Regions from separate parts of the Homo sapiens genome. Here region 1 is linked to region 2. The links come from fine-mapping of genetic effects on gene expression. A gene starts in region 2. The other region holds a variant in brackets. All regions are shown on one strand. Distances are between the middles of the regions.

Region 1 (2,931 bases), 26 kb before region 2:
ATGTTTTCTCCTTTTCCATTTATTGGAAGAGATAGTGTAGAATTCTTCTTTTAATGTTTGTTAGAATTTTCTAGTGAAACAATCTGGACCTATGAATTTCTTTTTGGGGATTTTATAAACTAAAAATTCAATTCTTAATAGTTACAGGGTTACAAATTATATATTCATATTTTGGGAGTTGTGGTAGTTTGTGTTTTACTAGGAAGTGGTCCACTTTTCTGTATATAGAATTGTTTGTAGTATTTCCTCATTATTCTTTTGATGTACACAGAGTCTGTAATAATAACCTCCTTTTCATTCCTGATATTATTAATTCATGCCTTCTTTCTTTTTTCTCTGTTAGTCTTGCTAGGAGCTTATTAATTTTATTGATCTCTTCAAGGAATCAGCTCTGTTTCAAAGATTTTATTTATTTTTTTCTGTTTTTAATTTTATTGATTTCTTCTCTTATCTCTATCATTTCCTTCTACTTGCTTTGGGTTTTGTTTTGCTCTTCTTTTCCTTGGTTCTTGATGGCATAGCCTAGATTATTGATATGAGACTTTTCTTCCTTTTTAATATATTCATTTAAGCTACAAATGTTCTTCTCAGCACTGTTTTATCTGTGTTATACAAATTTTGGTATGTTTTATTTTCATTTTTATTCACGTCAAATTATTTTTTATTTCCATTGAGACTGCTTTTTGTTATCATTAATTATTTAGGAATTTCCAAGTTATCTTTCTGTGATTACATTGTATTGGAGAACATATTGCGTGTAACTTTTATTCTTTTTAAATTTGGTCTCCGTTGATACTGGTGGTGGGAGATTTATTACCACTAAGTGAAGATGGGTATTTTCTCCACATTTTCTTTATGATTACATGGTGTGAGGGTCCTCATTACTCTGGGGTGGCGGTGAATATCTTGATTCTCTACTAGGCCTCCTCTGCCATCATCCCATGGGGGATGGGATGGACATCTTATTACTGCCCAGTGAGGGTTGAAATCCAGGCACCCACATGGTTTCCACTGACACCATGGAGAAAGGGGCTACTCATTATTGGCTGGCAGGAATGACAGTCTCAACTGCCTATTCGACATTCTCTGATACCACCACCCTGAGGAGGGTGTTGGGTGCCTCATTACAGCCTCATGAGGTTGGAAGTCTGGGTTCTCCATTTGGCCTTTGCTGACATGAGTTGGGGGTCATGTGGTCACAGTTTGTTTTTTTTTCTGCAGTGTTTTGCCGGAGTAAAGTGGTTTTTTGAAATCTTCTGCCTTGCTAGGATTCCCCTTTCATTGGCTAGAGGGAGCAGGCTTTTGAGAGGGCTTTTACTATCTGTGCACATTAGCATTTCTGTGTTGTCAGTTTCTTCAGCTCCAAGTCAGATATATGAGGTAAGAAGAAAATTCAATCATTAAGGATGACCACTATGTCATTCCTCTATTTCATGATGTCATTCCTCATATCCCAAGCTCCTTAGATGGTCTGCCTCTTGTCTACCCTTGG[A/G]ATTTTGTGTTTGTTTTATACACAATGCCCAAGGTTTTTAGTTGTTCTTAGCAAATAAATAGAAACATGTTCTTAGCAAATAAATAGGAAAATATGTCTATTCTGTCTTCCCCAATGTGGGAGGAGTCTCCTTTAAGATTTTTAATTCATCTATTCAGCCTTGGCTACTGAGATAATTGTAAATCATTTAAAATCCCTGCAACTTCAATTCCCATTTCAGCCACTGCTATGGCTACCAGTTCTGTGCAGGTGCAGCCTGTCACAGGCTCATCTGGACCCTGGGGTTTCTCCTCTGATGCTCTGTCGTGGGGGCCCATGGGAACCCACTGAATACTCAAGCATAGGCAGTCTGCCAGTTTTGGGAGTTAATGCTCTGTGGAGCAATTCTTAACTAATTGAATACAGGAGGAATAATTACTTTTCATTTACTTCCCCCAGGAAGAAGATTATGGGCAAGTACTGCAAGAACTGGCAACAGTCTCATATTATGTGGACAACTCTACAATGCATGTTTGTTTGGGCTCTCCCTTTTCGCTGCTCCAAACTCCCTGTCCCTGACTTTTGCTTACTGGGTCCAGTCCCCAGTAGAGTAGCTGCTCTTAGGCTTTTGTCTTAGGAGAACTCAGGGGAACACGTGGCCTATGCTCTGGCAATAAAATCTTCTTGCATTGTCAGAAGTCACCTCACTATTTGATGTCTCCGTATACTCCCTCTGCTTTAATCTCACTTACTTCCCCCAAACCTCAATCTGGCCCCTGTTTAAATGTCACCTGTTCATGAAGCTTTCCTTCATCTCCACAACAAAGCTGGTTTCTCCCTTCTCTGTGGCTGCTGTACCTTGTTTATTCCTCCATGGGCGCACTGAGGGCTCTCAATACATTTGGTTTTATATCTGATACTCATTGTAATATCCACTATTTTTTTTTTGTTTCTTTTATATTTTAGGTCCTCAAACATTGCCAAACATTGTCAATCATTCTTGAAGGTTTAACATTAAATGATATTAAGAAACGGACACTGGGCAATAACTTTAGCACCAGCTGGGAGAATTGGTGATGATTATAGTCGGAAAGAATCCCAAATATGTGATGCTGGTAATCTCTGGTCATAAATACATATTGAGTGTAAATCTTTTCTTACAATAATAAAATGCCTAAGGAAATATCTATCCCCAGACACAAACACATTTACGTTCTTCTCTTATTTCTTATCAATCTAGTCTGGGATAGATGATGTGCTGCTCAGAGATGGGGGCTAGATGAAATTACTGGGGGATGGGAGCTGTCCTATTTATTGGGCAACCTCAGACTGTGGCTCTCCGGGGGAATTGGCCACCTAAACTGGTACCCTCCACTGACCAGGCCAACATAAACATGGCTGGGAAAAGGGCAATGTTTTTATGGTCCTTAGTCCCTGGAGACCCTGTTTCACTGGGAAAG
Region 2 (2,931 bases):
ATTTTTCTTACATTGAAAAAATCTTAAGTGTTTATATTCAAGACAAGAGGGGGACTAATGAATATCCTTAGAAGGAGGCACTAAATTTCCCCCAAGCTTCTCTTTTGTGCTGCCTTCACTCTAGAATCTTTCCGACCCATCCTCTCCAATCCATATATACTTTCATTTTCTCTCTTGTGAAATAAGCTATATTCTCTCAACTAATTTTTCTGCCCACTCGGATTACAATGATGCTCCTCTTTCATTGCACTATTATAAGCTATAGCTTGTGGCTGTCTTAATCTGCTGAACTAGACCTTATAGTGTCATCAGTATTCTCCATGCTATTGTCAATGGTATGGCTATCATGTGTGACTGACCTGGGTTCAGATTCTTGCTCAAACACTAACTAGTTTTGAGACCATCTACACCATTAATAAAAATATTACTCATAGAAATAGCTACCATTTACTGGACACGTGTTCTGTGAACATTATTGTCCTCAGTGCTTTATAAGCATTATTTTAATTCTTACTATGTCATCATGTGACAAGTATTATTAGATTCACTTTAAATTCATTTTTCTGGTAAAGACACTGAGTATCAGAAGTCTGAAACATATTTGAAATCACATACAACTGGTGAAAGTCAGAGCTGAATTTTTAACTCAGGTCTTTTTAATTCCAAAGCTCGTGCTCTCAAAAACAATTGTTTTACTGAAATCTACAAGTAATATAAACTTTCTGTGACCCAGTTTCCTCATCTATAAGACAGGATATGCGCTGTGTCTAATACCAGTAGCTGGCAGGCAATGCGTTCGAAATTGGTAACTTTTCATTTTTAGTAATAGTTATTGGGCATAGAAATGAGATTCACTGACTGTGATAAATATATCAGCACACTGATTAAACCATTTGACTAAAAACAAGTTATCTAACCTATATCAGGCAGAACGAAATACCCATTCTCTACGTATTTCCTGGGAATAAATAATTCTGAAATTCTACCGTCCTCCTCAGCCCACCATACCAACATCTAATCTAATTCTGCACATTGTGAGGAAATTACTCCCTGTGGGTGAGAAAGTCCAATTCATCTAGAGTCAAGCATTTTCATTGAACAAAACAGTTTTACTTACAGAGCCCATACAGCAGTTCGGCCTGTTCCTTTCAGGCTGACTCAGAAGGCTGAGGAGGCTTTAGATTCCAGGGGAGGGCCGAGCTTGCAAATATGAGGAGACTTATTCCAGCCTGACTGGAGACAGGCACAGAGCTGAAAGGCCAATTCCTGGTGGTGGTGCTAACTCACTGTGTCTTCAGGGTGTGGAGATTCCCAGAAGACTTCTTTTGCCTCATACAGTCCTTTTATATCTGTTCCATTATGCAATTACTTACGGTGGCTATGTGCTTTATGGGCTGATGTAACCTTTTTTTCATGTGTCATTTCACTCAAAAGCTTTTTTATTTAACAGCTTTATTGTTATATCATTCACATACTATAAAATTCACCCATTTATAGTGTATGATTCAATTTTTTTTAGTAAAGTCACAGAACTGTGCAAGAACCATCATCACAATTCAATTTTAGAACATTTTTTATTACCCTTAAAAGGAACCTCATAATCACTAGCAGTCACTCTGAAGGAGATTTTAAAAAACGAAATATTGTAGCAAATTGCTAAATGACATCTCCCATTATGAGTGAGAGTCCAACTCCACCCCTTAACTCCTCAGTATCTATGATTATTCACAGCAGTATGGTTTCATTAGCCCACCTGTGGTTCTTTGCAGCAGCAGTCTTTCTCTTACAGATAAAAAATAATTCATTTACTCATCCATACATATATCCAGTAAATATTTCATAAGAATGTCCCATATTCTAAACATTATACTCAGTGATAGAGTTTTTTTTTTTAAGAATACACCATAATTCTTACTGTTTAGGATTTTAGTGTAGAAGATAGACAGGTTAACCAATAATTACATGTTAACCAATGATAAGGTTATCCTAGAGGCATGAACCAAATGCTTGGTGAATACAGTAGGTAAAAATCTTGGTTCACAACTTACTTGTGTATAAAATACGGTTTCATTTACTTTTTTATAATTTGACCTATTTCGTATTTTGAAGTCCCAACCTACCAGGTTGAAGAGAATTAGTCACAATAATTTGGGGTTCTCTCTACTTATAGTCAAATTTTGAAAATCTTGTATTATACCAAGAAAAATTGCAGGTAGGTGGGTGATTGACTTGGCCAATGATGTCACCTTCTGTCAGTTTACTATCACTCTCATTAGTCTTTAATAAATAGAATGCATAGATTGCTATAAGTTGTCCATCTTTTCTCCTTATGGCCTCTTTAGATCCTTAGATATTCCCACCAATTTGGACCACACTTGGGCATATGGGTCTTTGATTCATTCTCAGTTTCTGTCTCTTACACCCTGCATTTAATCCATTGGTAAATTATGTCAATCTCTTTGAAAAATACAATCAGAAATTGATCACTGTTTATCATCTCCAGAAATGTCACCTTTATTTAAGTCACAATTATCTCTCACTTGGGTAACTTCAGTAGTTTCCTAACCATTCTCCCTGCTTCCGATATTATCTCCTCTCCACTATCAAATCTGTTTCACTACTGAAAATGTCATGGCCTGAGATATTTTCTTCTTCATAATGTAATAAAAACAATAAATAACAAGAACAATAATATTTTATTATGCATTCTACATCCATGATACTAGGCCAAGTGTTTGTGGTAGACAGGATAATGGCCCCTAAAGATACCTATGTCTTAATGCCTGGAACCTGTGAATATGTCACCTTACATTGCAAAGGGACTTTGCAGATGTGATTAAAGTTAAATAACTTGAGATGGCAAGATTAGATGGATTAGCTGGGTGGATCCAATATAGTCACACGGGTCTTTAAAAGTAGAGAACCAGAGAG

Direction of the effects. Positions count from the first base shown, and alleles are read on the strand shown. Sizes are in standard deviations (SD) of each study's normalised expression.
As copies of G replace A in region 1, the expression in left ventricle of the gene that starts at base 1,318 in region 2 goes down (small effect, 0.39 SD a copy in GTEx).

What was found. PIP is the estimated chance that this variant, and not a neighbour inherited with it, causes the effect.
Region 1: its variant is fine-mapped to the expression of OR51E2 in left ventricle (GTEx, PIP 0.97).

The regions. Positions count from the first base shown.
Region 1 is chr11:4,670,091-4,673,021 of GRCh38, forward strand. LOC105376528 (a long non-coding RNA gene) reads left to right here. Exons shown (of 3, transcript XR_930990.3): 3 at 1,931-2,169. Among named protein-coding and RNA genes, the nearest start is that of OR51C1, 26 kb to the right of the region's middle. The variant A/G (reference allele first, on the strand shown) is at 1,493.
Region 2 is chr11:4,696,536-4,699,466 of GRCh38, forward strand. It overlaps OR51E2 (olfactory receptor family 51 subfamily E member 2), which reads right to left and starts at 1,318. Exons shown (of 2, transcript NM_030774.4): 1 at 1,118-1,318. OR51C1 (olfactory receptor family 51 subfamily C member 1) reads right to left here and starts at 1,318. Exons shown (of 2, transcript NM_001396051.1): 1 at 1,118-1,318. The coding sequence starts at 1,126.